4 linked regions of the Homo sapiens genome follow. The protein of the gene in region 2 purifies or fractionates together with the protein of the main gene of each other region. This does not show direct contact. Each region holds a gene or a part of one and is shown on either strand. Other genes may lie near its edges.

The links.
Region 1: the proteins of ZNF354C (region 2) and SORL1 purify together in Homo sapiens (affinity purification with mass spectrometry; 2 studies listed by BioGRID and IntAct, with this or other methods). This does not show direct contact.
Region 3: the proteins of ZNF354C (region 2) and ASS1 purify together in Homo sapiens (affinity purification with mass spectrometry; 2 studies listed by BioGRID and IntAct, with this or other methods). This does not show direct contact.
Region 4: the proteins of ZNF354C (region 2) and LRP4 purify together in Homo sapiens (affinity purification with mass spectrometry; 2 studies listed by BioGRID and IntAct, with this or other methods). This does not show direct contact.

The regions. Positions count from the first base shown.
Region 1 is NC_000011.10:121,630,312-121,634,294, forward strand, and holds the end of SORL1 (sortilin-related receptor preproprotein), read left to right. Parts: 3' UTR 1-3,452; downstream 3,453-3,983. UniProt on the Homo sapiens protein: Sorting receptor that directs several proteins to their correct location within the cell. Along with AP-1 complex, involved Golgi apparatus - endosome sorting.
Region 2 is NC_000005.10:179,055,615-179,063,382, forward strand, and holds the start of ZNF354C (zinc finger protein 354C), read left to right. Parts: upstream 1-4,758; 5' UTR 4,759-5,052; exon of another isoform or gene 5,053-5,476; intron 5,477-6,400; 5' UTR 6,401-6,454; coding exon 6,455-6,481; intron 6,482-7,768. UniProt on the Homo sapiens protein: Transcriptional repressor that inhibits endothelial angiogenic sprouting. Suppresses osteogenic effects of RUNX2 and may be involved in osteoblastic differentiation.
Region 3 is NC_000009.12:130,454,931-130,461,963, reverse strand, and holds part of ASS1 (argininosuccinate synthase), read right to left. Parts: intron 3,564-7,033; coding exon 3,375-3,563; intron 1-3,374. UniProt on the Homo sapiens protein: One of the enzymes of the urea cycle, the metabolic pathway transforming neurotoxic amonia produced by protein catabolism into inocuous urea in the liver of ureotelic animals.
Region 4 is NC_000011.10:46,873,550-46,880,582, forward strand, and holds part of LRP4 (low-density lipoprotein receptor-related protein 4 precursor), read right to left. Parts: intron 5,767-7,033; coding exon 5,577-5,766; intron 5,490-5,576; coding exon 5,358-5,489; intron 3,791-5,357; coding exon 3,650-3,790; intron 3,282-3,649; coding exon 3,195-3,281; intron 3,089-3,194; coding exon 2,917-3,088; intron 2,418-2,916; coding exon 2,255-2,417; intron 2,133-2,254; coding exon 1,907-2,132; intron 1,555-1,906; coding exon 1,251-1,554; intron 868-1,250; exon of another isoform or gene 45-867; coding exon 1-44. UniProt on the Homo sapiens protein: Mediates SOST-dependent inhibition of bone formation. Functions as a specific facilitator of SOST-mediated inhibition of Wnt signaling.

The sequences.
Region 1 (3,983 bases), on a different chromosome or scaffold from region 2:
GAATTTTACTGTATGTGCCTCTGTACAAGATGTAGCTTTGAGAGCTACAAAATGATAACACTGCTTTATTACACACTGGTTTCATTGTCATTGCAAAAACTTACCCTGGTTGTGGGGGAGAGTTCTAGATCTGTGCCATGATCCATACACTGGCTAATAGAGTACATAATTTTTCCATTTTCCATTTTTTGTTTTTACTTACTACTGAAGGATCTCAGATGTAAAATTATGTATTTGGTTTGAGATGGCCACTTATTGTCCTTAAAAATCCATACTGATATATGCAGTCATTTTGAATTGGACAGTGCCTTCTCTTTTTTTTTCTCCTCTTCTTCCATCTCCCTCACCCATGCCCCCACCCAATCTAAAGAGACAGTGCTGTACATTCTCATAGAGATAGAGAAGATCTAAAAAGTTGAGACTACTCAATCCAGTTAACAACAGCAGGAGCACTAGAGTTTGTTCATTTATTCTCTCTGTAAAACAAGCTGTGCTTTTTTTCTTCTGCCTTTAAAATGCCACCCGTGTATTCAAACCATGGCCACTTGATACTTATGTAGAATCCATCGTGGGCTGATGCAAGCCCTTTATTTAGGCTTAGTGTTGTGGGCACCAATGTCGAGCATCGTTGTGACTTGTGCTGTATGATTCTCACTGAAGAATTTCCTTTCAGCCAAGAAGCAGTGAGGTCTGGGAATATTCCAAAGTCATGTCTCTGAATATGTGTCCTTGACGTGCAAGCTTTGTAAAACCCCATCCCCGCTTAGGTGCGAGGCATCACCTTCTCACAAGTGTTTAGTTTCTTTTAACCACAAGTATCATTCTTGGGTGATAATATAGTTTCATTCTACTTAGGGATTGTTTAGAAAACAAAGAAAGAGCCAATTAAATTTTTTAGTTTTTGAAATTTTTATTTATATGTATACTTAGATGAGTATTTTAAGCTGTCGACCTTTAGTTTGCCATACGGGTAGGACTGTATTTCATGTTAACAACTGGTGGTAATGATAAGCCTTCTTCTAGCGTATTTTCTCTTCTTTCCTGTCACTTTCCTAAGTTTTTTTTTTTAAAGACTGGAATTTTTTTTGGCTTTATCTTGTCTTACCGTAGAGATTTGTTCAAAACTCTAAGCCCTACCACCTCCCCTTTAATAAGCTCTTTAAATAGTTGAATCATTAACAACCTGGTGGGAGGCAAGTCATTTAATTGAACCACTAGGAAGTGTATTTTCTTTTCTTTTTCTGCCAACTTTTTGGTGGCATTTGTAAAAGCTGATATAAAAGGCTCTGAGATGTTATTTTCAGTTATTCCATAGGCAAGCCTTTTTACAGAGCATATGTCTCCAGTTGGCAGCTTGAGATATTTCCGAGCATCCGGTTCTAGCTACCAGTGCCTCCCAATGCTTAGTGCACAGTACTGTAGACTGGCCATCACCCCTCTCCTTGGAAAATGCCACTGTGCTGTTTGAAAAAAAGCAGCCTTTTAGGGCTAGAGTATTTTATATAAACAGAAGAGCTAAGTTCCTGAAGACTAAGCTAGATAGCTGCAGCTATATGTAAATTGTATATTTTTATGAACTTTTGAAGCACACACTCCTGTTTCCCTCTGTGTAGCTTTGTGGGGATTTCATGTATATATGCTGTCTGAAAGAATCCAGAGGTTGGAGTGCCAATAGAAAATGAAAACAAATGCCTTGTACTACAGGCAGCCTCTGAAGGTGACCACATAACTGTCTTCACTGTGACCAATCGGAGTCCCTGCTTGCTTGTGAAGAAGGGGCTTTTGTACCTTGTTGGAGATGCCACCTCAGAAGTTCACACTGTGCAGGAAAAAGGTTTTATTCTCTCCTGGCATACATTAGAATGTCAGATGCTTGCATCCATGTGGACCACGATGGGCCTCTAAAAATTGGTGGGCAGGGGGTTTGCTTATGAGTTTTCTCTGGAAACCGATTTTACTCCTGGATGTATTGAATGCCCCTTGAGCTTTATGAGATACGAGTCCACATGGATAAAATGTTAGAGAGTGGAGTTCTACAGAGGATTCCAGGAAGAGGCCATGTCTGTGCAGTCCTAGTTCCAGACAGGTGAGAAGCTCCAGGAACTACTGGCTACCTTGACAAGCTGGGTAAATAGTTATCATTCTGGGTAACTGGTTGAAACTCTGACTTTTGGACAAGTAATTCCTGGGGTTCTGTCTTTGGTAGCATCACCAGGGATATTTGGGTGGGACAGACAGAAGACACACAGCTGCCTGTTCTCTCCTGCCCATCATGTTTGGCCCACTAGATGAAGCTGTACTCAGCAATTTAGGGAATGTAACCCTTCTCAGAACTGGCCATTTTCAGGGGAAGCTTGGGAGAGCAATAGTATGGTGAGCCCCTTAGAGATGAGCGCCTACTCCTTCTTGGCGAATGCTGCCTTCAGATGCTTACCAAGTGGTCACTGCATCTAGTAAGATTATATTTCCAGTACACTTCCTTAGGGCAGAAACACCATCCTATCAGGTTTGGTCAGTCCCTTCTTCATGAAGGGAGTCATGGGGAATTCCTGAAAATTTTCTTCCTTCTGCAGACAGTTGGATGAGTCCCTTAGAGAAGGCATCCAGAGACATAACTAAACTGAATATCATCCCATATTGATTTTAGGAATTGACTCTAAAACTCTGTGCAGAATCTTGTGTTGGGATTGTATCTTGACATTCCTGTTGTGTTATTTTTCTTAACTGGAGTGTGTGCTGCCTTTCAGGTACAATTTTTGTGTAATAAAAGCCAGTGCATTAAGTTTATATAGACTACTTTCTATGCAAGACTGAGATATGGAATAGATAGGAAGAGATATGTACTGCTGGGTACATGGACAGTAAGTGTGTTTTCAGATGGAGTACCAGCACCGAAAATGGGTTGAGGGAGGATGGGTTGTATGTATGTTTCTGCCCACTAATTTTGAGCAGCCATATTATGAATTAAATCGTCACAGCCAAGTAATAACCCAAGAATGGTATGAGTTTCATGTGTAATAGCTCAAATGGAATAAGCATGAATGCTGGAGTGGACCATTATCCTCAAATATTCTATGTCACTTCTCATTTAAAGACTCTTGTTATGAACTATTAGAAACTTTAGGCAAAATCAAAAGTATTTGCGGCAAAATAAAGGCCTATTCTACTCTTATTTAAAGTGAAACACTGTATACTTGTTTCTCTCCAAAGCGAAATTAAGTATTTATAATTTCAATTGCCTCGATAAGTTTCCAAGTCACTGAAATCTGCTGAAGGTTTTACTGTATTGTTGCACAACTTTAAGATAATTTTTGTCTCAATGTCAACTTTTTTCACTGAATAAAAATTTAACTGGGTCAAGAAAACACCTCTTTGAAAATCCACTGTCTCTGTGTGTCTCGAGCTGTTCTTTAGAGCGCAATAAAGATGGCTGACGCAGTCTCCAAACCCCATTTGATTGGTCTGTTTTAAACGGATGTTTATTTCATAGATGAGAGAACACCAAGGCCTGGAATAATTTTGTTATTAACAAGCTGGTCTCAGATGGTGGATCCTTGAAGAACACGATGTCTTTGTGTTGGTTGAGGAGGGGGAAGATGTGCTGGCTGTTTTGAAGTAAACAGAATTATTCCGTAGGGACAATGACTAAAGTGGCTCCCTTAAATTTGTAACTACATTTGCTAAGAGACAGTTTGCTAAGAAGGCAATTTTCAAATCTAAGAGACGGAAGCACAGCAGTATAGATGAGCTGTGTGTCTAAGAGCACTTCTATGGGTTTCCATAGACAGTCTTGTGAGGAGTGCTGCGTGTACCTATTATGGGCAGCTGAATGGCCATGGGCCTGTAAGTCAGGATTGGAGGCTGTGGAACTGGGTGGGGGAGGGAGGCAGGTTTTTAAGAATTTAACAGGTCTTCTGGTATGCTGCTTTTGTTTAGACACTGAGCCAGAGCCAAACCCTGAAGTATTATCATCTGGTTTTGTG
Region 2 (7,768 bases):
CTGCGAGGGTGGTTTCAGAGCCATCGGGGCAAGGGAATTCTTGCTCAGCTGGCTTTACAGCATTCTTGCTAACACAGCAAAGGTGGGGGATGAGAAACTCTGTCAGATAGTAAGAATGATCAGATGTCAAGAGTTGGGGGATTCTTGCTAAACTGACTTATCAAGACTCTTTGCAAAGACTGGGCTGGGCAGGACAGAATGAGGGCCAAGGTCAATGCCTAGTGAAAACGAGGGCTCAGAACGGCCTGACTAAAGTTTGGTCAAGGAGGTAGTCTTATCACTCTCCGCTACTCAGCGCATTCTCGTCTCGTTCAGAGTGAAATCCACTGACACAGAACCCATTAAGAACCTCCACGTTCTGCCCCCTTGCCTAGGATCTCCTACTGTTCTCTCCCTTTTCTTTCTGCTTCAGCAACAGTGTCCTTATTGTTCCTTCAACAAGCCAGGCATGCTCCCACCTCAGGGTATTCGAATCCGCTTTTCATTCTGCCAGAAAGACTTCCCACAGATACTTAAATTGGCCCATCCCTCATCTTCTGCAGGTCTTTCTTCAAATGTCACCCTCTCAATGAAATGTTTCTTAACCACTTTGTGTAAAATTGCAAACTCTCCCACCCTCCATGTTCCTGTTCCCTTTTTAAATTCTTGTTTGCACTTACAGGGAAGTTTAAATTTTTCCCCTGAAGTTTCGATAATTTGAGTCTATAAAACAAAATGATACATAGCTGAATAGGAAAAAAAGGCATACAAATTTTATTAAAGTTCATACAAGCACAGGAGTGATACAACATACAAAAACTCAAAGAAAGGCAAGGTAGTTGATATTTTTATACCATCTTGAAGTTACAGGAAGAACAGGGGCTTGGATCACGGCTAAGGCGGGTTATAGGAGGGAGAGAAGAGGAAAGACCTGAAGAAAAGGTAGACTCATTATGCAAATGAAGCTGCACAGGTAGCAGCCTAAGAGCAAATGGTAGCCCGTGGTTAAAGTTTGCACCAGATTTTCAAAGGTGTCAGACTCTCAGTTAGTCTTTCTCAGATCTGGACGAGGGGAGAGCCTCAGAGAAAGCCTATTCACATCTGTTGTTGACTGCACTTCATTTCCTCAACAGATGCAAGTCTCCTCTACAAAAGACAGCTTTTCAGGACTATTCCTGTCTGCAAGCTCTCTGAATAGCCATCTCAAGATATGTCAGGGAAGTATGTTTTGGAGTGAATTATTTTGGTTGCCTTCACACTCATCTCTATCTCAAAACGTATTTATTCCTCTTATTATCTTTCCTCTCTCTCTTCCAGTAAAATTCAAGCTGCATTTGTGCACAGGTTTTGCCAGTTTTGCCCACTGGTGTATTTCCAGAATCTGGCACAATGCTAGGCACAGGATAAGTGTTCAACATAATTTTTGTTGTTGCTGAATGAATCAATAATGAAATCCTATACAGTAATGAAAAGGAATGAACTTTGCATGTATCAAGGTAGACTAATCTAAAAGTGTTTGTGTTGAACACATATATACACATGATACATATATGCATGTATATACACATGATATATATACATATATACACATATAGGCATATACACATATATATGCAGAAATCTTTATATAAAGGGTATCTGCTATATACATACATATTGTATATTGTATAAAAGTTGAATACAATGTACAATTGAAACTATACAATTGTATATTGTATGTATATAGCAGATTACCTTTATATACATACATATTGTATATTGTATGTATATAGCAGGTTGTCTTTTTATAAAGATTTAAAATGTTGCAAAAGTAAACAATGTTTAGGGACACATGCATGTGGAGTAATTATCAAACAAAACAAAGGAATGCTGAAAGCAACTCAGGAAAATGACTTGGGAGCACTGTGAACAAGGCTTCCAAATTTTGGGTAAATTTCTCTTTGGTAACCCAAGTGTTGGGTATGTGGGTATTTGTTTTATTATTATTAAACCATGGGCCTCGCACAGTGGCTCATGCCTCTAATCCCAGCACTTTGGGAGGCTGAGGTGGGCAGATCACGAGGTCAAGAGATCAAGACCATCCTGATCAACATGGTGAAACCCCATCTCTACTAAAAATACAAAAATTAGCTGGGCATGGTGGTACGTGCCTGTAGTCCCAGCTACTCAGGAGGCTGAGGCAGGAGACTGCTTGAACCTAGGAGGTAGAGGTTGCAGTGAGCCAAGGTCGCGCCACTGTACTCCAGCCTGGCGACAGAGTGAGACTCCATCTCAAAATAAATAAATAAATAAATAAATAAAAACAAAAATCTGTGCCTATGAATACATTATCTCCTGTGTATGGTACACATTAAAAGAATTTAAAATAACATAACTATCTTGTGGTTTTGATTTGCATTTCTCTGATGATTAGTAATGTTGAACATTTTTCATATACCTGTTGGCCATTTGAATGTCTTTTTGAGAAATGTCTATTCAGGTCCTTTGCCTATTTTTTTTTTTTTTTTTTTTTTTGAGGCAGGGTCTCACTCTGTCACCCTGGCTGGAGTGCAGTGGTGCTATTTTTGCTCACTGCAGCCTCAACCTCTGGGTTCAAGCAATCCTCTGCGCTCAGCCTCCTGAGTAGCTGGGACTACAGGCCTGCACTGGCATGCCTGGCTAATTTCGTTTATTTTTTGTAAAGACAAGGTCTCACTATGTTGCTGAGGCTGCTCTGGAACCCCTGGGCACGAGTGATCCATCCACTTCCGCCTCCCAAAGTGCCGGGATTACAGGCATGAGTCATTGTGCCCAGCCCTTTGCCCATTTTTAATGGGACTCTTTGTATACTGTTGTGGTTTTTTTTGTTTTGTTTTTTCTTTGAGATGGCATCTCGCTCTGTCACCCAGGCTGGAGTGCAGTGGCATGATCTGAGCTCACTGCAACCTCCACCTCCCAGGTTCAAGGAATTCTCCTGCTTCAGCCTCCCAAGTAGCTGGGGTTTCAGGCATGCACCACCACGCCTGGCTATTTTTGCATTTTTAGTAGAGACGGGGTTTCGCCACATTGGCCTGGCTGGTCACAAACCTGTTATTTGAATTCTTTGTATATACTGGGTATTAGTCCTTTGTTGGATGAGTAATTTATAAATATTTTCTCTCAAGTTGTTGCTTCACTCTGTTGTTTCTTTTGCTGTGCAGACACTTTTTAGATTAATATAGTTGTTTATTTTTCTTTTTGTTGCCTGTGCTTTTGAGGTCTTAGCCACAGACCTCAAAAGCACAGGCAAGAAAAAGAAAAATCTTTGCCTAGATCAATGTCCTGAAGAGTTGTCCCGATGTTTCCTTCTATCAGTTTTATAGTTTGGAGTCTTTAAATCTTTAATCTATCTGGAGTTGACTTTTATATATGTTGAGAGAGAAGGGGTCCAAGTTCATTCTTCTGCATATTATTATCCAGTTTTCCCCAGAACCATTTATTAAAGACGTAGTCCTTTCCTCATTGTGTGTTCTTGGCACCTTTGTTGAAAATCAGTTGGCTGTAAATGGGTGCACTGATTTCTGGGTTCTCTTATTCTGTTCCATGGGGGGGTGTGTGTGTCTATTTTTATACAAATATCATGCTCTTTTGGTTACTAACACTTTCTAATTAGATATAAGCTCACTCCAGTTAGAATGATTATTATTATAAAGACAAAAAAATGACAGATGCCAGTGAGGATTTGGGGAAAAGGGAACTCTTATACACTATTGGTGGGAATGTAAATTAGTACAGCCACTATGGAAAACAGTGTGGAGGTTTCTCAAAAAACTAAAAATGGAACTACCATACAATCCAGCAACCCTACTACTGGTAAAGGGAGAGAAATCAGTATATGAAAAGGATACCTGCACTCACGTTTGTCACTGCACTATTTGCAGTAGCCAAGATATAGACTCAACCTACCAGCAATAGATGAATGGGTAAAGAAAATGTCATACATAGACACAATGGAATACTATTCTGCCATAAAAATGAATGAAATAATGTATTCACAGCAACATGGATGGAGCCGAAGGTCATTATGTTAAGTGAAATAAGCCAGGCACAGAAAGACAAGTACTGCATGTTCTCACTTATATTCGGGAGTTAAAACACTTGATCTCATGGACATAGACAACAGGAGGATAGATACCAAAGGCCAGGAAGGCCAGAAAGGAAGGGGAATGAAGAGAGGTTGGTTATGGGTACAAACATACAGTTAGATGGAAGAAATAATTTCTAATATTTAATAGCAGACTAGGGTGACTATACTTGGCAATAATATTGTGTATATTTCAAAGTAAATCGAAGAGAGGGCTTGAAATGATACCAACGCATAAAAATGATAAATGCTTAAGGTGATGGATACCCCAAATACTGTGACTTGATGATCATTACAGTCTATGCACGTAACAAGCACTCACATGGACCCTATACATTATGTAAATTATTTTGTATCAACAGAAAAGTAATCACAACCAGCGGTGGGAGCTACAGCACACTGATCCTCCTAAATGAATCTAATTTCCGGTTTTGTTTTTTCAAACTACTCCGCTTGCTTAACAAGTGCGCGGGCTGTAGGCAGCACGGCCAGCAGCTGGAGACCTCCTGCCTCGTGTGCGGCGTGCGTACTCCCTCGCACTGCAGCCCCTCCGCGCACTGTCGCCTTTGAGAGCTCTCGTTGGCGGAGGCGGTTCCTCTCCCGGAGTTCGCAGCGCGCACCGCGGCGTCCCCTGGGAAGTGTAGTCGGCGTGGGGCCGGAGGCATGCCGGGAGTGGTAGTTCTCCCGCGGTTGGCGGGGTTTCGGGGACAGCTCGCGGCCTTTCGGGGGTTCTCCTGGCTTGGGCCATCCAGGCTTGGCTAGGATTGCCGGCCTGGGGTTGAGGCGCTCGCAGTGGTCTCTTCCGGGCCGGGGTGGATCCGGGCCTCTCCAGCGAGTGGGCGGCGTGCAGCCTCGTCTGGGCTTCTGGGACCAGCCCTACGCGGCTCGGGCCCCTTGGCCACTGGGTCCCGGGGCGCCGTCCGCGAGCGGCCTGGACTGCCGGAGACCCGCGGGAGGGAGCGCCTCGCCAGGTGAGCTGGGTGCGCCGGGCCGCTGGGGTGGGGATGCCAGCCTTTTGTCGTTGTTCATTCTGCGATTTTCTTCTGTGCATTTTCTTCTGAGTAACGGAAATAATAAAAGCAATAGCTGATGCCCGCCGAGAGCGCTCGGGTGCCAGGCACCAGACTAGCGCATCGCCCGAACGAACTCCGCGCATCCCTGCTAACAGATAGGGTGGCGGTACGCTGTTCCCGCTCTGTCAGGAGGAGACCGAGGCAGAGTGGCGAGGTCATTGCCCCAGATGTAACTGGGGCCTGGGGCTAGGATCAGGATTGCCTTCCCGGCCCTTATGACTTTGGGCAGGTCACGACCTCCTGGTTTTCAGTCTCCGTAACATCTGTAAATGTGAAGATTGAAAATACTGCGTGGAAAACACTCACCGCTTCCTGGGAGGAGGTGCGCTTCGTCGCGTAACCGAGGCCTTGTGTGGCAGCTTCCCCTGGGCTGGTCGAGGCACCCGCTGGAACTGGCCTGGCAGAGCCCCAGGTTGGCTCCATGCTAGGGGGCACCCTGAGTCGCCGCTGCAGATCGCGGGCCTGGAGGCCCTCACACTTGCCCGGCTGCCCCAGGCAGCCTCTTCCCTTGCTTTCTGTGGGGCGGGCACGGTTTCCACCTCTCCCACCTGGGGTTGGTGTTTGGGCAGCGACGGCTGTTTCTGGTTGTGGGTGCCATTAGAGGCGGCACCTGTGGAGTATTAGGAGGGACAGCAAAGCTCTGGCTTTGGGTGGGGACAGTGCCTTAATCCTGTTACCTTGGGTAAAGTGTGGTAAGGCCCGACGAAGATCTAGTAAAGAGGCTGGGAAAGCTGAGTGGTTGGATTATGCTCACAGTTTCTTGGGGAGAACACAGCACTCCACGGAAGGACCACTCAGGGCGAGCAGTGGGGTCTGTCACCAGGGTAGGGATGCGGGGAAGCCTCTTTATCGTGGCTACCATAGGGAGGAAAGGGTGAGGCAGGGCAGGCAGGATGAGGATCAGCTAGCTAGGCTGGGAAGTGGCGCCCCAGGAGACTGGATATTCATTGCGACTTTTAGGTGTGCAGTTCAAAGCTAGCGAAGGACTCCAGACATCCATGGGGGAGTCACGGTTTGCCTAGAGGTAGCTGAGAGGCCCGAAGGTGGAAGTTAAAGAGTCCAAGTGCAGAAATAGAAGTAGGGTTGGCACATTGCCCTAGTAAACTAGTAAACACTCTTCTTGCTTTACATCATTACGGGGGGTGGCTTTTTTGAGACCTGATGGACATTATGGGCGGTTGTAACTTCCTCTCTCCAAGCCATCTCCTGACGCCAGGGTTCCTCTTGACACCTTTTTCCTCTGCAGACCCACCGTGTCCACACTCTGCTCTCCCTGGGCAGGAAGACTGAGGAGGAAGGGATGGCTGTGGATCTGCTGTCTGCTCAGGTGAGAGTGAGTGAAGGTTGTCTTTTTCATCAGTTGGCTTCTGGATTCAGAGATGGTAGACATGTTTCCAGACTTTGTCCAGGTACTTTTTGGTCCAACCAAAACGATGAAGAATCCGGAACCTCAAAAGTTTTTCCCAGTGTCTTGGGCTTAGCAAGGGGCTGCTGAGGAATGTGCCTCTTTTGTCCCGAGACTACTCTTAATTCACCCCGCTCACTCTGTGATCCACATTTGAGGCAGTTCTGAGCATATGCTTCCCACTACACTGGTGCTGGGTGGGGAGAATGGGGCATGAAGCAGTCTCTGTCTTCATAGAGGATATAGTCACACTTGGGGCTAAGATGTGGAAGGGCCGGAAGACAGCCTCCACAAGCATTTATTGAGCCCTATGTACAGGATCCTGTGCAGCACACGGGATGGAAAGAGGAAAGCTGTCATTTCCATCTTCTGGGAGTTCGTGGTATCGATCTTAGGAAACATGATTAAATGTTCAGGGGAAATATCCCAGAAGTGGGGGCATTCTGAGTTTATACTGGAGGCCAGGACTGATATTGGTGCTTAGAGAAGACTAAGGGCATCCCAGAAGGAGTTCAGCGTGGTTTGGGCTTTGAAGCCCAGAAGGAGGCAGGCCTGGGGCCTTCCCCTCCCAGTGCAGCGGGGATGTTAAGCTGTCCAAATGTCCATCTCACCTGTCTGATTGATTCCTCTATTTCCTTCTCTGATTCTTTTCTTTTTTCTCTGCTAGTTTAGCCTCTCTACCTGGGCTCTTTTTTCTTGTTCTTTCCCCATTTAAGATCCATTTTCATTACTTTAACCCTCAGCGTTCTGAGTATCTTCCCCAAATCTGTCCTCAGGCCTGACCTTTTTCCTAGCATTCCTGTCTGTCATTCCGACGTGGAAGTCCCATCTTTCCTTCAACACCAGCTCCCTTTCCTCTAGTCCCCTCCCTTCTGTGCATTTTTTCTGCCATACTCCAAAGCCTATTCTTCATTGACTCCTTTTCCAATAGCCCATAGGCTGGAAATGTGGACTCAGGAGCTTGACTTCATGGCTTCAAATCCAAGCTAGGGATGTAGCCCTGAGCAAGTTATTTTATCTCTCTGTACCCCATTTCCTCAATTTTGGTGGGGTTAATAATATACATACATGACTGAGTTGCTATGAGCATTAGTAACAGTAGTAGCTGGGCACAGTAGCTCACGCCTATAATCCCAGCACTTTTGGGAGGCCAAGACAGAAGGATTGCTTGAGCCCAGAAGTTTGAGACCAACCTGAGCAACATAGTGA
Region 3 (7,033 bases), on a different chromosome or scaffold from region 2:
GCAAACAGGATGCCCTTCCCCCTCACATCCCAGGCCAATCCGTTGTCCCCCCAACATTTCACTGTCACCTTCCCTGAGCCCAAAGACCCGAAAGCCTCCACCTGGCCCGTCCCCCGTGATGGCGCCCGGGGCAGTGCTGGGTGGATACTCATGGGATGGTGGTGCTGGGTGGTTACTCAGGGGGTAAATGCCTGAAGGCTGGACCAGCACCTCCAAGGCCTTGGATTCCCCTCGCTCCCAGCCTTCCTGGTTCTCCACTCATACCCCCAGTTCTCGGAAATTGTCTCCAGAGGCTGTTGGGGGTTTCCTGGGTACTGTCATAAAGGGACACTGAGGCGCAGAAGTACGCCTTGCCTGTCAACCCCAGGAAAGAGGTGGCTGTGCCAGGTAGCACCTACTCCCCGGCATCCCCGGAGTCCGTCCCTGTTGGGTCTTCTGAGTGTGAATGCAGGGACGCCCCCAAGTCCCGAGCGGCCATAGCACTAGCTTGGGGGGCGTTCTCCTCAGAACCACGCCCTGCAGGTCCAGGATGGGGAACAGAGGACCCCGGTGGTGCCGCCACCTCCTCCCGCCTTTGTCGGCCCCCAAGGCCTCAAACCCAAGCCTCTGGCGCCCTCTGGTGGCCACATGGAGGAGGGGCGCACACGGCTGCGGGAGGCTGTTGCAGGCTAAATGTGGGCTGGTCCGGGGTGGGGGTCTCCGCATGGACCCGGGAACTGCCTGAGCCAGAGCCGACCCACCCATACTCACCCACCCACCCATGCACTCCACCAGACCTGAATGCCGCCCTACTGAACCTTAATGGTACCGTTGGAAAGACCTGAGGGCAGGACCCCTCCCAGAATTCTGATCCCCTGCCCTCGGCTTGTATGCCTTCTGGGATAGGAAGCTCACGATCCAGCTCTTTCCATTAAGGCAGATGGGTCGGGAGCTTTTTTTTTTGTTTGGGACAGAGTCTCGCTGTGTCGCCCAGTCCTGATCCTCTGGGTTCTCCTCCTCTGCCACCACCTTTGCACAGATGGCAGCATACACACGGTCCTGCCCAACAGCTCAGGCCCGCCCAAACCTCCTTGCCTGGTTTCCTACCATCCCATCATCCACAGCTGGAGTGACAGTAAAAACCAAGGCCGCAGTCTGTGAGAAGCTCTCCCCTGTCTCTTCCCCAGCATCTCGCTGGGGTAGTCACTGGCCACCTCCATCCAACCTGAGACCTCCTTCCACCCACTAATCAGTTGCCCTCAGGATGAAGCCAAACCTCCCAGCATGGCCTCAGCCCAGTCCTGGCCCTATTGCCTCCCCCACAGCAATAGCTCCTGCTCCACAGCCCCAGACAGACTGTCCTTCAGGGCCTCTTGGCTCTAAGCCTTTCCACAGGCTGTTCCCTCTGCCTCTCACACTCTTCCATGCCATTATTCACTCCTCTAGACTCATCCTCAGCCCCTGCCTGCTGCTCCCGCAGTTCCCTGGCACAGACCCCTGGCCCCACTCCCATTCCTCATCACACATCCATTTTCTCTTCTCTTGCCAGGAAATGGGCTCTCTGAAGGTACGCAATGAGCCCAAGAAGTTAGCACTGTGCCAATGCCAGCAAGCACCCAACTCCCAGCAGATACCCAGTGCAAGCTTGCTGAACCAGTGCTCCGGTGAAGAAATGAACACTTGGACTTTCAAAGACATGACAGGTGCCATCCTGGTGGGTGGCTGTCTCCCAGGCCACCCTCAAATCAACCGCGTCTCCTCCATCATCATCTTAGCTGTGTGTGTCCCTGCACCACAGTGAGCCAGGACCTCCCACAGTGAGCCAGGACTTCCCACCATCAGCACCCTGACCAGCCCGGGCAGGCGAGGTAGTGAGCTCCCCGTCACTGGGGAGTTTCCGAGCCTTCTGACTGTGGGGTTGGTAAACAGTCAATTCCTGTACCAGGCTCTTGGCATGCTGTCCGCTGACTGAGAGCTCATGACTTGGGTCTTTATAAAAACATCGGCTGACAGTTGCCAACATTGTCAGGAATCTGGTTTCTCAAGGACTGCCTTCCGAAGAGCAGCAGGCAGGGGGCTTCCTGTCTTGCACCCCACGGGGACCCCGCAGTCTGCACTGGGACACACGGCCCGGAGGGAAGGGGTACGGGATGGGTTGATTTGTGTTTCCACAAAATAATGGGTTCAAGTCCTAACCCCAGTCCCTCCGAATGTGGCCTCATGTGGTCTTAACAGAAATAACCAAGTTAAGGCTGGGCATGGTGGCCCACGCCTGTAATCCCAGTGCTTTGGGAGGCCAAGGCTGGTGGATCATTTGAGGTCAGGAGTTCAAGACCAGCCTGCCCAACATGGCGAAACCCCGTCTCTACTAAAAATACAAAAAATTAGCCGGGTGTGGTGGGGTACACACCTGTAATCCCAGCTACTCAGGAGGCTGAGGCAGGAGAATTGCTTCAATCTGGGAGGCAGAGGTTGCAGTGAGCCAAGATCGAGCCACTGCACTCCAGCCTGGGCGTCAGAGTGAGACTTTGTCCCTCTCCCCCACACACACACACAAAAAGTAACCAAGTTAAGATGAGGTCATTGAAGGGCCCTAATCCAAGACGGGTTCCTGTAGCAAGGGGAAGGTAAACAGACAAGCAGAGGGAAGACAATGCAGAGATACAGGAAGAAGACAGCTTGGGAAGATGGAGGACGGAAGGACAGGAGTGACGCAGCCACACGCTAAGGGACACCAGAGGCCACTGGAAGCTGGAGAGAGGCCTGAGCCGGAGGCTTCCTGGCACCTTCAGAGGCTGCGTGGCCCTGCCCATGCCCTCACTATGGACCTCAGGCCTCCAGAACCATGAGGCAGAACAGTTCTGTGTTCTAAGCCACCAGTTTGAGACATTTTGTTACCCTCGCCCTGGGAAACTAAGACATGGCATGAGCCCCATCTTGCAAATGAAGAAACTGAGGTTCAGGAAGGGGAGAAGGGCCCTGGCTGAGGACACACGGCAAGCCAGCAGCAGAGCTGCCTTTGAACCCTACTCTGCCAACTCAGGGTTTTCAACACTTTCCTGCGTGTCCCCTGGGGGACTCACGCAGTGACCTTGGCCAATGCGACCTTGGACAATGTCCCCAGGCCTCAGCAGCAAGTCTGCCAAATGGGGTGACATCGCTCCCACAGCAGAAGGTGGAGGTGAGGACTCAGAATGGGCGTTCAGGTGCCACAGTGCACAGAGCGCAGGGGCGAGCTGTTACCCCTCTCATTGGGGTCTAAACAAAGCCATGTAGCTGCCTTGCACCAAGTCTGCCCCGGAGGCACACCAGGAAACCGCTCGAGGGGTGCTCATCTCCTTCCCACACCCCTCCGCCTCCATCTCCCTCTGCCCGGCCCTTCCCAGGTGCCTCACCTTTCCTGTGGCGCCGTGGGACACATACTTGGCCCCCTCCCGCTGGGCGATTTCCACTTGTTTGCGGGCGATGCAGGGCCTGGCAAGAGAGGTGCCCAGGAGGTAGCGGTCCTCATACAGTGCGCTGGACTGGATGGCCGGCCAGATGAACTCCTCCACAAACTCCCTGCTGACATCCTCAATGAACACCTACGGGAAGAGGAGCCCAGAAGGAAGAAGTAGGCAAGGACAGGGGCCATCTGGCATACAGAGCCCCAGGGGCCTCAGCTAGCTGAGACCTATACGGGGCCACCCCCGCTGTACCTGGTGCTTCTTCTTCTGCATCTGTAGTAGACATCATTCATCAATCCCAGCACACTGCACTGTTACTCTCCCTCCTGCACTCATGGCAGACATTGCTAATCAATAGCTCTCTTTTTTTTTTTTTTTTTGAGTCGAAGTCTTGCTCTGTTGCCCAGGTTGGAGTGCAGTGGCTCAGTCTCAACTCACTGCAACCTCCGTCTCCCAGGTTCAAGCAACTCCCCTGCCTCAGCCTCTTGAGTAGCTGGGATTACAGGCGCATGCCACCATGGCTTGCTAATTTTTGTATTTTTGGTAGAGACGGGGTTTCACCATGTTGGCCAGGTTGGTCTTGAACCCCTGACCTCAGGTGATCCAGCTGCCTCGGCCTCCCAAAGTGCTGGGATTACAGGCACAAGCCACCGCGGCCAGCCTGCTAATCAATCCTGATGCACCGTTCTGTGAAACTGGATGTGGCTTCTAAATCAGCCCCAACAAGATGAAACTTAGTTGTCACCTAAGATCTCACAGCAGTAGTTCCCAACCAGAGACGGTTTTGTCCCTGTTGGGGGTGGGAGTAGGGGAGGCATTTGGAAGTATCTGGAGATATTTTTGGTTGCCACAACTACCAGGTGGGGGGTGGAATTCTGGCATCTAGTGGGTAAAGGCTATGGGGATACTGCTAAAATCCTCCCGTGCACAGGACGGCCAGCCACACGGGAACAAGGCCAAGACTGAGAAACCCCGATCCAGAGGAATGGTTCTTGAAATGTAGACCCCCAGGGGTTCCCAATGACTTTTCAGGGAGACACTGAGTGAAAACTTTTTTTTTGTTTTTTTGAGACAGGGTCTTTCTCTGTCATCCAGACTGGAGTGCAGTGGTGTGATCCTAGCTCACTGCAGCCTCAACCTCCTGGGTTCAAGCAATCCTCCCACCTCAGCCTCTTGAGTAGCTGGGACTACGGGCATGTGCTACCACGCCCGGCTAAGTTTTTTATTTTTTGTAGAGATGGGATCTCACTGTGTTGCCCAGTTTTCTTCATAAACTTCAATAAAACAAGGCATCACATAGCGAGGAAGCCCTGGGAGGCTAAAAAAGAAAAACAAACAAACAAACGAAAAAACAAGTGAATGCAGAAAACCGCTACAAGAGTCCATCTGTTTTCTGTCAAGCCAGACATTACAGAGATTTGCAAAAATGGAAGCCAATAAGATTCTTAACTAAAATTTTTTGTTTGAGAAAATAGTTATTTTTCATAAGTGTAATGTTACTTATGTTAACATGAACTGTTCATTTAAAACATTTCAGCTTTTATTTCTAATGTGATAAATATCAACAGATGTAATCCACAAAAGCTCTCTAAGGCCTTCAGTAATTTTTATTTTTTTGAGATGGACTCTCTGTCATCCAGACTGGAGTGCAGAGGTGCAATCTTGGCTCACTGTAACCTCTGCCTTCCGGGTTCAAGTGATTCTCCTGCCTCAGCCTCCCGAGTGGCTGGGACTACAGGCATGTGGGGTTTCTCTACTAAAGAAACTAGGCTGGTTGGCCAGGCTGGTCTCAAACTCCTGACCTCAAGAGATCTGCCCACTTCAGCCTCCCAAAGTGCTAGGATTACAAGCGTGAGCCACCGCACCCAGCCAAGGCCTTCAATAATTTTTAAGAGTCGAGAAATTCTTGGTACTGCTTTTGCAACTTCCTGTGTCTATAATTATTTTGAAAAAAATCCTTTTAAAAAATGAAATAAAAAGGCATAGAAAAGAAAGCAATTGGGACTAAGGATATATAAAAAACATTAGGATAAATGTGTTTTTGTGTTTGTTTGGTTGGTTGGTTGGTTTTTTTTACAGAGTTTTGCTGTTGTTGCCCAGGATGGAGTGCAATGGTGTGATTTCAGCTTACTGCAACCTCCGCCTCCTGGGTTCAAGCGACTCTCCTGCCTCAGCCTCCCGAGCATCTGGGATTACAGGCACCCACCATCGCGCCCAGCTAATTTTTGTATTTTTAGTAGAGACAGGGTTTCACCATGTTGGCCAGGCTGGTCTTGAACTCCTGACCTCAGGTGATCTGCCTGCCTCAGCCTGCCAAAGTGCTGGGATTACAGGCGTGAGCCACTGTGCCTGGCCCATCCTAATGTTATATGCAAGAAAATAAACATTAAAAACGCCACGTAAATTAGAGTGTAGAGGATTCCCAAGACCACAAGTTTTGAGAACTGCTCATCTAGAATAAAGGACAAAAGCTGAAGCCGTGCACAAAGCCTGCTCCTGCGCTGCTGAAAGCGCACTCGAATCTTCAACACTCAGGGCTCTTTCTCCCCTTCCTGGACTACTGCTCAGACAACCCCTCTGCTCTCCAGCACTCGGGAGGCACAGAACCAAGGAGGGACATTCTAGTTCCAGGCCTGTGGCCAGTAGGTGACTTGGGACTGGGGCATCCACTCCCTCCCGTGTTCATTTTAACATGCTAATTACCCTGGCAACCCTGCAGAAGCACCCCACAGAGGGGATCAGCTCTGACCCTGCAGGTGGGCTGGTGGCCTTGCACATCATCCCTGCTATGTCCCCTGCTCACTCTCCCAAATGAAGGGGCACAAGTGGCAAGGGCTTCTCCATGGGGAGTGAGCACATGTGAGCAGGGGTCCTGATGACACTGTTCATCATAAATGCCCTGTATGGGACAGGGGTCTGCCTGCCACATGCCTAGATTCACAATCAAGGCACCAGACTCAATTGGAGTTCTCTGATTCTGTTGAATGAATGGAAGAATGGGTAGACAGAGAGATAAAAGAGGGAAGGACAGGTAGGGGGATGATGGACAGAAGGATGGATGATGGATGACAGATGGATGGATGGATGAATGGATGGATAGAAAAACGGTGAATGGATGAAGGATGGATGGATGGATGGGGGATGGATAGATGAATGGCTGGCTGTCTGGATGAATGGATGGATAGACAGTGGAGGGATTAATGACAGATGGATATGTGGATGGATGGATGGATAATGAAGGGATGGATGGGTGAATGGATAATGGGATGGATGGATAGATGATGGATGGATGAATGGATGGATGAATAGACGGATGGATGATGGATGGATGCATGGGTAGATGATGGATGGATGAATGGATGATGCATGGAAGGATGAAGAATGATGGATGGATGGATGGATGATGGATGAATAAATGGATGATGGATGGATAGACGGATGATGGCTGGATGAATGGATGATGGGTGAATGGATGGATGGATGGATGATGGATGAATGGATGGATGATGGATGGATGGATGATGGGTGAATGGATGGATGGATGATGGATGAATGGACGGAGGATGGATGGATAGATGGATAGATGGATGATGGATGGATGGATGAAT
Region 4 (7,033 bases), on a different chromosome or scaffold from region 2:
GCCCGATCACTGTCTCCATGTTGCTGCCGTTCAGGTCTGCTCGCCTTGGGGAGAGCCCAGTGTTGGATGAGCAACCAGACTGACCCAGAATAGAGTAGAACTTTAACCCATGTTCCCATAACTGGACCCCACTGAACTGTAAGCTCCACAGGGATAGAGACCAGGTATCTATGAGTACATTCCTCAGCACCCAGCATGATAGATGTTCAATAAAATAATTGCAGAATGAAGGAACCAGTTCTTAGGAGGACACAGTATTTCCTGCTAACTGGACATAGTGGCGGTTGCCAGGGGATGTCTTGCTAGAAGACAAGTTTATCATTCCCCACATACCTTTGGGAAGAGACAAGGATTGCTAGGTGGTGATGATAAGAAACGCAGATTTGTCAAAACCAACCTGTGCATTTTTTAAAAGTTAAAAACAATTTTAAATACAAGTAGATATGAGGTTTCATTATGTTGCCTAGGCTGGTCTTGAACTCCTGGGCTCAAGCAATCTTCCCGCCTTGGCCTCCCAAAGTGCTGGGATTATAGGCGCGAGCTACCACGCCAGACCCTAATTGTGCACTTTTGCAAAGGCCCTATGGGCAGGAGGGAACTCTACCTCAGAATGGGGAGCATGTCACTGTCACCTAGGGGACTTCCCTAAACTGTATATGCCTACCTGTCCCCAGTTTGAGATTCTAATACATCCCTTGGGGAGAGCAAAGGGGAATGTTCCCTGTTCCTCCATGTGAGAATATCTGCCATGGTAAACCACTCTTACTGGTGGCAGGACATCATATTCCTAAGCTGTGTTAGGGCCACAAATTTAAAGACTAAAAATAAAACAACGAAAAAATAAAAAACAACAGCTTTGTAAACCACCATAAGACTTGGCATTTGATTGGGGCTCCTTTACTGCAATACAGATACTGGTTATATGGCCTACTCATCAGTAAGTCCTAGGGGATTCTTGGAGCTCCCTCAGGGCACAATGGTAGATGTGAAAGTCTCCAGGTCCCCTGACTTTACCTGTTTTTTTTGTTGTTGTTGTTTGTTTTACATACTAGGCTTCCATATAATCTCTAAACAAATGAAAGTTTGAAACTCTGCTGTAAGTGACAACACTACAAAGTGAACAAGTCAGGATTAAAACTCACTATCCAAAGTGCCAAATCACTCATCCATTTAGTGGTCAGAACACAACCTCACCCATGGGCGACCAGAAGCAAATCTGTGTCTTCTGGAGGTTTCAGTGTTGCTCATACCTGATAACATCCAGGAACACATCTGTGTAATAGACCTTTCCATCCACGCTGTCATAGTCCAGGGAGATGACATTGTTGAGCTCAGGAACAGGGACATGCACATCGGTGTGGTCACTGGTGTCCAGTGAGATACGCCGGATGGAGCCACGGCTGGAGAAGAGCAGGTAGGTCTCAGGAGAGGGATCACAGGTCTTCCCATCTCCCTTCAGCTGGATGCCAGTGGGGCAGGCACAGGAGAAGCCAGAAGGCCGAGGCAAGCAGAGGTGGGAGCAGCCGCCATTTCTCGAGCCGCACTTGTTAAAACCTGGTGATGAGAAGCACAAGTATTCACACCTAGCCTGGAACATCATCTGAATCTTACAAAGGTCCCAGTTGTTTGTGGCTGGCTCTTTGCTGTTCTAAGTGACAGGATTCAGTGCCTGGCAGGGTGAGGTAGAAGGAGGGTCTGCAGGAGGATCTCCAGGAGTCCTTTGAAGGTGACAGCTGTAGTACCAGCCATACCCAGAGAGAACACAGCCCAATCTGGAAGGGAGCTTAAACAGGTCACCGTCTTTCTGGCTGTAAAGGAGCTCTGTGCTCTGGATATATCTCTGATGTTGAGATGGCCCCAGAAAGCCAGAGGCTCTGACTCACAGCCCCAGCCCTCTGACTCTCACCTAGTGGCTGTGCCCGGTCCACAGCCTGCATGTCCATGAGGCCTGGCAGGTTGGACCTCACGAGGATGACATTGCTGCCAGTACCCTTGTCAGCACGGTGGATGCTCCGAGTCTGCCAGTCAGTCCAGTAGATATAGGAGTCGAGCAGGGTGAGGCCATATGGGTGCTGCACCGGTGACACCAATGTATGCCGATTGGCACCATTCAGGTCAGCAGCCTCAATTCGCTGCAGAGGAAGGAGAGGGTGGGGGGTGGTGATCAGCAGATTGGGAACTCTCCATGGAGATCCTAGGCAGGCCTTTCCCATCTTCCCAGGCTCCTGGGAAGCAGCAGGGACACGGCTCTCACCTCGGTGTGGGCATCGGCCCATAGCAGTTGGGAGCTGGCCTTGTCCACAGTCAGTCCATTGGGCCATCCTAGGTTGTTGTTGATGAGCACCGCGCGGTCTGAGCCATCCATTCCGGACCGCTCTAACTTGGCATTCTCCCCCCAGTCTGTCCAGTACATAAACCTGAGTGAGGAAGAATATTAGCTATATTAGCTAGTTATTCCAGCAGCTACCACATACCATGAATACTTAACAGTATGTCAGATACACTTGAGTACTTACAGTATGTCAGGCAAAATTTTTGCTTGACAAAGTACTTTGCAAAATACTTCATGTGCATTATCTCAACCTTCATAAGGGCCACAAGGTATGTATTTTCACTACCACCTCCATTTAATAGGTAAGGAAGCTGAGAATTAGAGAGGTTAAATACCGGACCCAAGTGATATAGCTAATACATGATGAAAACATTTCAATCCTGGTATTCTGATTCAAGGCTCATGCTTTTAACTTCTACACTGTACTGTCACCCTGCGAGAAGTCACAAGAGAGTGGAAGAGCCCCAGGGAGGTCACCTTGTTTCTGTGATGCAAGCTTCCTCTCCACTACCCACCTTTACCCCGTCATAACCCCAGCTGAGCTGGCCCCCCACACTACCCAGTGCGATACAGCCAGCTCTCACCCCATCTCATGGTACAGTACGATGGCCCGGGGACTGTCAAGGTTCTGCCACACCAACACTTTCCGCATGGACCCGTCCAGGTTGCCCACTTCAATCCGGTTTGTTCCCGTGTCTGTCCAGTATACTTTCCGGCCAATGGCATCAACCGCGAGCCCATCTGTGGTCTGTAGCCCTGTGGGAAGTCAAAAGAGCACACTGGCTCCTATTTTAAAACAGATGGGCTATTTCCCCAGCCCTGTTGCCAGACAGGTGGTCCCTGGGCTAGGAGGAAGGCCCACCTGTGGTGATGATGTCCTCATGCTGTGAGCCATCCAGATTGGCACGACTGATCCTGTGCAGTGTGCTGTCAGACCAGTACACCTTTCCTGGAGAGGGAAAGCTTGGCTCAACCTAGACCCTCACCGCCTACAATGGGACACACACAGCTGATTCATGTCTTGAAACACCAGAGCATGTCAGAGAGCTCTGGAGCCTCTAGCAGAGGAAATCAAGGAAAACGCAGAAATATCATAGCAGGATAGCTCTTGGCAGAGACGGAGAGAAGAGGGCCCCAAACCATGCTCTCACAACCAAAGAGAGAGTGCTAGAGAGACAGGGACAGGGGCTATGCCAGAGGGAATGGGGAACAAACACCCTGGCTCTTGGCAGGAGACAAAGGTGGTGGGAGAGGAAAGACAGTAATTGTTGAAGGGCAGGGACAGAAGGCCAGGTGGGAAGAGAGGGCCATACAGACCTTCCTGGGGGTCTACTCCAATGGCAATGGTGTTCTTCATGGTAATGTTGATTGGTACCACCACATCAGCAAAATAAGGGATGTCCAGGGAGACCATGCGAATGTCTATCCTCCTGGCGAAGATGAGGAAACTGTTCATGCCTGCCAGGTGGAGAGGAGGGAAGAGGATCACTCGAGCACAGCCATTAAATGGATTTGGAATCAGGCAAACTGAAACTCATGCCCTGTCCCTGCTAGTTTCTAGCTATGTTATTCTAGGCAAGTTATTTAAATTATTATTATTTTTTGAGACAGGGTCTTGCTGTGTCGCCCAGGCTGGAGTGCACTGGCATGATCATGGCTTACTGCAGCCTTGACCTCCTGAGCTCAAGCGATCCTCCCACCTCAGCCCCCTGAGTAGCTGGGACTACAGGCACACACCACCATGCCCAGCTAATTTTTGTATTTTTTTGTAGAGATGGGGTTTCGTCATATTGCCCAGGCTGGTCTGAAACTCCTGGGCTCAAGCCTCTGCCCACCTCAGCCTCCTAAAGTGCTGGGATTACAGGCATGAGCCACTACTCTCAGCTTAAATTATTAGGCCTCAGTTTTCTTATCTATAAAATGGGGACAATAATGGGGTGGCTGTAAGGGTTAAAAGATCATGTACATAAAGCACTTACCATTAGGTCTCACACATATTCATAAATAATGCCTCTTTATTAATATTATGAAAGTGGCTCTCTTTGAAGGACCCTTTACCATGAAGATTAAGAAAGAGAAAAAAAGAAAGGGAATAAAGGGACCCCAGGGGGCTTTACTCACAACCTGAGAGGCACAGTTCACAGCTCCTTTCTCACTCAAATTCCCAGGGAGGTTAGAGTTCAAATGCAGCCTACCCTGCAGCATCTCCTAGGGAGAAGCCTTGACTTCCGACATCTGGGTAGCCAGGTACTGCTTCTGGGACCCTCCAATAAGGTTGTCACATAGGTTGTGCACTCACAAAAGTGGCACATCTAAGGAGGAGGGTACTGTGACATTGTAGATATCATACATTTCTGTTTTTATTATACCAATTTTGGGCAGTTAGAAGTGTCTTTTTTTTTTTTTTTTTTTTTTTGAGACAGAGTCTCACTCTGTCACCCAGGCTGGAGTGCAGTGGCGTGATCTCTGCTCACTGCAACCTTCACCTCCCAGGTTCAAGCAATTCTTCTGCCTTAGCCTCCCAAGTAGCTGGGATTACGCGCCACCATGCCTGGCTAATTTTTGTATTTTCAGTAGAGACGAGGTTTCACCATGTTGGCCAGGTTGGTCTTGAACTCCTGACCTCTAGTGATTTGCCTGCCTTGGCCTCCCAAAGTGCTAGGATTACAGGCATGAGCCACCGTGCCCAGCCAGAAGTGTCTTATTCCAACCAAATCAGTATATTATGACAATGTACTAAGAGATGAGAGGAAAGTGTCTTGAGAAAGGAGCATCTTTATCTAATATGCATGAAGACATCATAAGAACTAGTTGGACCCTGCCTCCAGTCCTTTCTACTTGCTCCCCAGGGCCTCTCCCCAGGCCCGTCCCCTTTTCTAAAAGCCGTGAGTCTCTCCCCTGGGCCTCTAGAAGCAGCAGGACTCATGGTTTCTCAGACCACATTGGAGCCCATCTGCAAGGAAGGAAGAGAGCCATTGCCCCCTCCCAGAGAGGCTGCATCTAGATCTGTGATGCTTTCACTCACCTGGTGAGCAGGTCTTGCCATCAGACAGCAGGTTGATGCCTGTGGGGCAGGTACAGCTGAATCCGCTTGGATTTGGGGACCTAAGACACAGGTGGCTACAGCCGCCATTCTCCATAGCACATGGTGTAGACACTGGGTAGAGAGGAGGGGATGTTCAATGGGGAGAGCTAGGGCATAGGAGGGCCACGGAGAAGCCAATGCGAGCCAAGGGCTGCTCACCTGGGGGCCGGCGGCGGTGGAAGACATGGATGTCCATTAGGTTTTCCAGGTTCTCCTGCAGAGTCTCCCGGTCCAGCCCTGTCAGCCGGTCAGCGCTCTGTATGCTCTTGGTCTGCCAGTCAGTCCAATAGATGCGCTCTCCATAGAGGGTCAGCCCAAATGGGTGGGGGAGCTGGCTTCCAATCAGCACCTGCCAGGGCCCCAACACTGTGTCATCTTCAACAAAGTCTGACAGTACAGAGCAGTGGCAAAGAGCTCACTGTGGACTCAGAAAGCAGCTCTCCCACTAACACCTACTGGGTGACCTCCAGTAAGAGCTACTTATAAAATCTCTCTGAGCCTTGCTCTATCAATCTGTGACTTGATCATGCCTGGCTCTAAGGGTCGTGTGATGGTTTTATTGGAAGATGTTGGAAGTCATCTATTACTCACATCATCTCAAAGTATCTCTGGACAAATTACTTATTAAGTACAAAATTAAAAAATAGCAACTTTACAGTGGACACTACCTTAACCATACAATGGCAGTAAGTATCACAATAACGGAACAGGCCAACACCTGTGTCTACTGATGAGACACACTGAGAACTCAAGGACATGACTTCACTTAGTGTAGTATTCCTGCTGCAAATGCACACTCTGAATCCAATCACAAGGAAACATTAGATAAATCCAAGTTGAGAGACATTATAAAAAATAACTGGCCTTTACTCTTTAAAAATGCAAATGTCCACTTTGGGAGGTCCAGGTGGGCAGATCACCTGAGGTCAGGAGTTCGAGACTAGCCTGGCCAACATGGCGAAACCCTGTCTCTACTAAAAATACAAAAATTAGCTGGGCGTGGTAGCGGGTGCCTATAATCCCAGCTACTTGGGAGGCTGAGGCAGGAGAATTGCTTGAACCCGGGAGACAGAGATTGCAGTGAGCTGAGATCGCACCATTGCACGCCAGTCTGGGCGACAGAGCAAGACTCTTGTCTCAAAACAAAACAAACAAACAAAAAATGCAAATGTCAATAAAGTCACAGAAAAGCTGAGGAAATGTTCCAGATTAGAGAGTAAAGAGACTAGATTAGTTGGGCCCGGTGGCGCACAGCTCCAGCTACTCAGGAGCCTCAGATGGGAGGATCACCTGAGCCCAGGTCAGCATGGGCAACACACCAAGACTGCAGTCTCAAAAAAAAAAAAAAAAAAAGCTATGTGTGGTGGCTCATGCCTATAAACCCAACACTTTGGGAGGTCAAAGCAGGAGGATTGCTTGAGCCTAGGAGTTCAAGACTAGCCTAGACAACAAAGTGAGACCCCCATCTCTACAAAAAATAAAAAAATCAGCCGAGTGGCCTCAAACCCGTAGGCTCCTGAGTAGCTAGGGTGCAGTAGTAGGTGCCTGTGGTCCCAGCTACGTGGGAGGATCCCTTGGGCCAGGAGGTCGCAGTTACAGTGGGCCATGTTTGTGGC